Linked DNA regions of Homo sapiens. The protein of the gene in region 1 purifies or fractionates together with the protein of each later gene. This does not show direct contact. Each region holds a gene or a part of one and is shown on either strand. Other genes may lie near its edges.

Evidence for each region. The genes of interacting proteins can lie anywhere in the genome.
Region 2: the proteins of COX10 (region 1) and COA8 purify together in Homo sapiens (affinity purification with mass spectrometry; one large-scale study listed by BioGRID and IntAct). This does not show direct contact.

What each region holds. Positions count from the first base shown.
Region 1 is NC_000017.11:14,191,504-14,195,003, forward strand, and holds part of COX10 (protoheme IX farnesyltransferase, mitochondrial), read left to right. Parts: intron 1-485; coding exon 486-718; intron 719-3,500. UniProt on the Homo sapiens protein: Converts protoheme IX and farnesyl diphosphate to heme O.
Region 2 is NC_000014.9:103,576,299-103,580,360, reverse strand, and holds part of COA8 (cytochrome c oxidase assembly factor 8), read right to left. Parts: intron 1-4,062. UniProt on the Homo sapiens protein: Required for cytochrome c complex (COX) IV assembly and function Protects COX assembly from oxidation-induced degradation, COX being the terminal component of the mitochondrial respiratory chain.

The DNA.
Region 1 (3,500 bases):
AAGAACAGCTTCCAGAATTCAGGTAGTATTTTCTGCCCAATCTTCCAATATTGTGTTTGAAGTGGTTTGTTCATGACTAAATATAAAATGGAACACTGTGCAGGAGGCATTGTCTCAGTCAGTCTTCAACCCTAGGAGGAAAAGATGATCATTTCTCTTGTAGAGAGGAGTAAGTGAAACCTAGCTGCCCTATAGCCAGGAAGGGACAGAACCTATATGAATCCAGAACACTCTAATCCTGACTCTCTTAACCACTTTACTCTTAGCTAGCAAAATCAAGAAGAGCAGCCAGAGCTCCCACAAACATATTCTTTCTTATTATAAGTTTGTTTCATAAAGAGGATTCCCCATATCCAGGAATCAGCCAGATCAGTACTGCCTCTACTGGATAGGTGGATTATTTGTACTTTGTCAGTGCCGATTTTAGGTAGTGTGATTGAGTTGAGTTGGAGATGATCACTCCAGGTTCTCTGCTCTTTTTCCAGCCCATTGCTAGCTGTGTCCTTTGCCACTTGTTGTGCTGTTCCGGGAGTTGCCATTCTGACCTTGGGGGTGAATCCACTCACAGGAGCCCTGGGGCTCTTCAACATTTTCCTGTATACCTGCTGCTACACACCACTGAAAAGGATCAGCATTGCCAACACATGGGTCGGAGCTGTGGTTGGGGCCATCCCGCCTGTCATGGGCTGGACAGCGGCCACGGGCAGCCTCGATGCTGGTAAGTGTCCCGCGATGTGGAGTCTCATATGAGCACACTCGGTCAAGGAGGCATTTCCTCCCTGAGCTGTAGCACTTGGTTCGATTCCATTCCATCCCACATTAATTCTTTTAGCAAATGTGCTGATGTGGCAGACTGAAATTTTGTGGACGCAGAGTAAAGAGAGACCGTGTCATCCTGGCTGGTGGGTGCACATGACATACACTTTCCCTTATAGGGAATGTCTGGGAGAAAAAAAAGGAAGCAGTGCTGCCTACCTGTGACTACAGGTGGATAAAGAAAGTACCTGAAGCTATGATGAAAATCACAAACGAAGCTAGGACTAACGAATTCATGGGGCGGGGAGAAGGTATCTGGAGCTGGCCTCCAGTCTCCCATCAAAGGGGTTTCGTCTCACGAGCCAGCCTCCTGTGTTCCCCTCTTATGAAAGGGCAGATTATTTTCATTAGTTTCTAATTTATTTTTATATGATTTGCTTAAATCGTTCATACTGTCTATAGTAAAACTATTGAAAGATTCCTACATTTTTTTGGTGGTATGTCACAACTAAATTTGTGGGGTGAAAATAGCTCATTTTTACCATGTGTAAGGGAAGTTTCACAGTCTAATTAGTCAAGTAATTAGTGTTTTTGACCGACACTTAGGAAGGAAGTGGTGAGGTTTCCTGCAATATATGTAAGTACATATTTTTCACATGAGAGATCAAAAGGCAGTTGACCATAAACCGTTACCCTGTAAGCCACATTTCTGAAACTTTTCATAAAAGCTCTTACACTCCAATTTGGCAAGCTTACAAATGCGATTACACCTTTACCATGATTGTCTCTTAGAATGGTTTTAATATCCTGTAAATGTCAGATTTTAATGAATCTACGAATACCATATTCTAAAACGTATGTGCTTGTGTGTTCTGTGATAAACCTAAAACCAGAGCCCCATCCATGTGGGAGGCAGTGTCAGCAAAGCGGTGGTGAGCAAGGAAGCCGGCGGCGCTGCCTGGATGGGGAGCCCGACCCCACCGCTCATGAGCTGTGCATCCTTCGCAGCTGAACTCAGCCTCTTTCTGCCACTGTCTCCTCATCTCCCACATGGGGCTAATAATCTTCTCCCCTCCTGGAGTCATTGTGAGGATGAAACAAATTGTTATTTGTAAGGTGCTGGACCATGGTGAGGGCTCAATTTGGGATCTGTATGCTGTTGTTATCATTCAGGAGTCCTCCTTCATACAGTGGAGGGACTGGCACAGATCAGGAAATGGAAGATTTTGTTTGGTTTGTAAGCTGAGCGATGCAGCCTTGTCCTCTGGCTGTTATTTTGAAGACTGAGGCGCCTGCAGCCTGGTGGGAAAGAGTGCTGGGGTCCTTTGGTGAGGTTTGCAGTGGATGAGGGAAGGGAGGGTTTAAAGCCTGGGCTTGGCATCCCTGGGCTAGATGACATCTGCGTGTTCATCCTGGTTTATAGTTGACCTTCACAGAGCACACCTGCACACCACCAGCCCTCCTGCTCCCGGTCACGTTCCTCTTCCTTAGTTCCACCTGGAGCTCACCTGACTTGACCCCAATTCCCTCTCCCCCTTAACGCAACTGTCCTCTTCCCTCTTATTTCCCTCAAACCTTTATAGTGATTGTGCAGACATTTGAGGTGGAGACCATGAAAGACAGTGTGGGACTTCCTAGGCTGTGCATGGGGAGTATCCCCCTTCCTCAAGGGTGTAGCCCCACTTCAGCACTTGGGTCCCTGCACTGAGCCACCTGCCTGTCTGATGGAGACACCCCCATCCCTGGCAGGGGTGCCTGAACTCTATTCAACTTCCTCAAACCTGGCACCAAGCAACAAGAACCTTCTCTTTCTGGGAAGACCCAGACAGGGCCAGAGTCAGGGCCAAGTATTACAGCCTTAGGGACAGGTAGTACAGGAGACTGGTATGGGCAGTTCAGTCCCAGGCCATGGAGAACTTGGTCACCACTGTTGTGCAGTGTTGTCCTAGGGCCCAGGTTCTTGCTGAGGGCTAGAGGCCCTTGTCACACTTCCGGGCAGTTTCCTCCTGAAGAGAGCCTCAGCATGTGCAGGCTGGAGTTGCCTCCCCGGAGGCTAGAGAAAAAGAGCTTTTCAAAAGTCCTCACTTAAGAGTGCACATTCAGACAAGAGCCCTTATTTGTTTAAGGATAGTCTGGATTTGGCTAAACTGCTAATAGTCATGTTTAAAATAATTTTTTTTCTTTTGAGATGGCGTCTCGCTCTGTCGCCCAGGCTGGAGTGCAGTGGTGCGATCTCGGCTCACTGCAACCTCCGCTTCCTGGGTTCAAGCGATTCTCCTGCTTCAGCCTCCTGCATAGCTGGGACTACAGGCGCCCGCCACCACGCCCAGCTAATTTTTATATTTTTAATAGAGACGGGGTTTCACCATATTGGCCAGGATGGTCTCTATCTCTTGACCTCGTGATCCGCCTGCCTCGGCCTCCCAAAGTGCTGGGATTACAGGCGTGAGCCACCGCGCCTGGCCTAAAATAAATTTTTTAATGTTGATTATAGTCTTTCTATAATACAGATTTAATCATTTGTATACAAACTCATTAATGATGGACAGCTAAGGGCAGCTCATCCCTTGTTTAGGTAGCAGAATGAAAGTACGTATTTGTCTTGGAAAATGAGACCCCTTTTCTACCCCAACAGAACCTGGTATAAAACAGAGCAGTCTGAAAGACATGTATAACCACAAAGAGAAGTTCCCTTGGCAGTTTTTGAGGTTGGCTTCTATTACAGTGTATCCTTTTACTTTAAA
Region 2 (4,062 bases), on another chromosome or scaffold:
CTCCAGCCTGGGTGACAGATTGATACTCCATCTCGAAAAATAAATAAAATAAAATATAATGTTGTAATAAACCTAGGCAACATAGAAAAAAATTCTACAAAAAAATTTTTTTTTAAATTAGCGAGGCATGGTGGCATGTGCCTGTAGTCCCAGCAACTTGGGAGGCTGAGGCAGGAGGATGGCTTGAGCCTGGGAGGTTGAAGCTCCAGGGAGCCACGATCGCGCCACTGCACTCCAGCCTGAGTGGCAGAGCAAGGCTTTGTCTCCAAATATTTGCAAATAACCTACTCGCATCCTCCCATATGCTTTAAGTCATCCCTGGATTACTTATGATACCTAATACAATGTAAATGCTGTATGAACAGTTGTCATGCTGTACTTTTTTTTTTTTTTTTTTTGAGACAGAGTCTTGCTTTGTTGCCCAGGCTAGAGTGCAGTGGCATGATCTCGGCTCACTGCAGCCTCCATCTCCCAGGTTCAGATGATTCTCCTGCCTCAGCCTCCCAAGTAGCTGGGATTACAGGCATACGCCACCACGTCCAGCTAAGTTTTGTGTCTTTAGTATAGACGGGATTTCACATTGTTGGCCAGGCTGGTCTCGAACTCCTGACCTCAGGTGATCTGCCCGCCTCAGCCTCCCAAAGTGCTAGGATTACAGGCGTGAGCCACCGTGCCCGGCCGTTATGCTGTACTTCTAAATTTTTCTATTTTTGGCCGGGCGCGGTGGCTCATGCCTATAATCCCAGAACTTTGGGAGGCCGAGGTGGGTGGATCATCTGAGGTCAGGAGTTTGAGACCAGCCTGGCCAACATGGTGAAACCCTGCCTCTACTAAAAATACAAAAATTAGTCAGGTGTGGTGGTGTGTACCTGTAGTCCCAGCTACTCAGAAGGCTGAGGCAGGAGAATCGCTTGAACCAGGAGGCAGAGTTTGCAGTGAGCCGAGATCGTGCCACTGCACTCCAGCCTGGGTGACAGAGTGAGACTCCATCTAAAAAGAAAAAATTGTATTTTTTATTTTCAATATTTTATTGTTTATATGTTTATTGTTTTCAATATTTTTCAATCTGTGGTTGGTTGAACTGAGGACATAGGGGAGGGACAACCGTGTAGGGAAAAACCTAGTGTACATACAGGGCTTGGTACTAGCCTCAGTCTTAGGCATTCACTGGGGGTCTTGGAATGTATCCCTCGGATAAAGAGGGCCTACTCTGTCTCATGTGTTACTGTTAATACACATATAGGGCGCTCAAAACTGTGTCCGTACTCAGAGGTTGAGGCAGGAAGACTGCTTGAGGCCAGCCTGGTCAACATAGCGAGACCTCATCTGGGATGGACAGAGGCCAAGACTGTCCCCACCTGGCTGTGTGGCCCCAGAGCTGTGACTTACCTCCATCTCAGTTTCTTCCTCTCTAGTGTGTGACAGCAACCGCGCACCTCATGAAGCTACACTCCGTCAGTGTGGCAGGAGGGGCGCGGCTGGCACAGAAGTGCTTGCTTGTGGTCACTGCTGTTAGGGTGACCACGGGAGTATCCCAAAGGCAGGGGTACCAGCTGCTGCCACCTGACTCCATTGACATGGGCGTCCCTCAGGACAGGTCTCCTTGCATTTGGCTCAAACACCCCCAGGCCAAGGCTCAACAAGCAGCAGAAGCACTGTAATATCTGCTAAGCAGGGCACCATCCACACTGCAGCACTGCAGCTTAATACCGAACCTACCGCTAAGTTCAGGGAAAGAGGCAAAACACCGAGTTCACCACACTTACTGAAAACCGAGTGGGTGTTTCATAAATACTTAGGAGACTGACTTAAACTAAACCCATCTTGATGGTACTCTTCCTGCCACTGCATAAACACTCTGGGAATGAAATACATTAGAGGAATTCTCCCACAATACTGCCTGCCTTACAAATGAGATTTAATTTTGAGACTGGCAGAACTGAAATCACAGTATTCTGCTGCTTGCACTTCAAATTCAATCACTCATTTTTCTGCACTGCTGCAGAATATTCCGGTGAAGGCCAGTAAGTGCGTAGGCCACCACAGCCTTATCCGTTCTTCTAGTACTGGGCATTTCCATTCTTCCCATTCTTCTGCAATGAAAGATTGTGCTGCAAGGAACACACAGCTGAACTCTTCCCATGTTTCCCCACATGAATTTTTTTTTTGGAGACAGTCTGGCTCTGTCACTCAGGCTGGAGTGCAGTGACACAATCTCGGCTCACTGCAGCCTCCACCCCCTGGGCTCAAGTGATCCTCCCACCTCAGCCTCCCGAGTAGTTGGGACTACAGACACATACTGCCAAACTTGGCTTTTTTTTTTTTTTTTTTTTTTTGAGATGGAGTTTCACTCTTGCTGCCCAGGCTGGAGTGCAATGGTGCAATCTCGGTTCAGTGCAACTTCCGCCTCCGGGGTTCAAGCGATTCTTCTGCCTCAGCCTCCTGAGTAGCTGGGATTACAGGCATGCATCACCACGACTGGCTAATTTTGTATTTTTAGTAGAGATGGAGTTTCTTCATGTTGGTCAGGCTGGTCTCAAACTCCTGACCTCAGGTGATCCGCCTGCCTCAGCCTCCCAAAGTGCTGGGATTACAGGCATGAGCCACCGCACCCGGCCTTAATTATTTTTATTTTTAAATTTTTTGTAGACAAAGGGTTTTACCATGTTGCCCAGGCTGGTCTCAAACTCCTGGGCTCAAGTGATCCACCCACCTCAGCCTCACAAAGTGGTGGGATTACAGGTATGAGCCACCAAGCCTGGCTCTCACATGAATTCTTAGAGATGATTCATGAGCATCATTTGCCTGCTTCCTGGGGTATATGTAAATATGTGTAGCTAAATTCTTCTGGAAAAGGGGCTGAGGATTTTCTGCTGCCATCCACCTTTGATGTAACTCCGCCAGCACTGAGTCTCAAGACTGAAAACATTCCCCCATGAACTGAGTAAGCATGAAATGATGACTTCTTGTTGCATATGCACTGTAGGCTGGGCGCGGTGGCTCATGCCTGTAATCCCACCACTTTGGGAGACTGAGATGAGAAGATCACTTGAGGTCAGGAGTTTGAGACCAGCCTGGTCAACATGGTGAAACTCCGTCTACGAAACACACACACACACACAAATTAGCCAGGTGTGGGGGCGGGTGCCTATAATCCCAGCTACTTGGAAGGCTGAGACAGGAGAATTGCTTGAACCCGGAGGTGGAGACTGCAGTGAGCCGAGATCACGCCACTGCACTCCAGCCTGGTGACAGAGTGAGACTCCATCTCAAAAAAATAAACAAATATGCCTTGTAAAATTTAGAGTTTGAACAATTTTTTCTTCTTGTAGTCACGTTATTTGTCTATAAATGTGTGTTATTTCTGAGTATTTGTGGCAGCTTTTCCTGAAGTCCAAATTGCCCATGTTGTTTTGCTGCCAGCACTTGCCCTTCCTCACATTTCCGGGACACTGATCCCTGCGCCTACCCAGCCCTCTGATCCTTTGCCAGCAGGCCTGCTCTTTTGCCTGCTTCCTCCCGTCTCCATGGCAGCAGCCAGGCTCTCTGCACAAGCCCCACCTCTGCCTCAGCTAATCCGGGCACCTCCCAACCGGGCTGGAGCCAGCCTGAGGAAAGGCAGCCTCCTCAGCTGACTGCTTCTTTGAACTTAGGAGGGATAAACAAGGAGGCAGAGAAAGCCAGTTTATAGCATGAGAAAGGTAAGGCAGTGGCCTAGGAGAAAAGTTTAAACATGAGGAAGAAATTGCTCTGGTCCTAGCGTCTGAGCACAGGCCATGACTGGGGCCAGCTCCACCCGCCTCTGGGTACTGAGCCACCTCCACATATGCTCAGCAAACTCTCCTGTCCAGAAACCTGGATCAAAAGGAGTCTTAACACAGACGTTTTCAGCTTTTATGTTCTTGAATATCTCTGTCTTCACCCTCAAGCTCAGGACGGTATCATTCCTCCAGATAATGGTGAGTCTGTTATATCCTATTAGATGCTCTACAGCTGCGAACTATGTATCTAACTCTTTAATCCATAAACAATCGACTTTCTTTTTTTATTTTTTTGAGACAG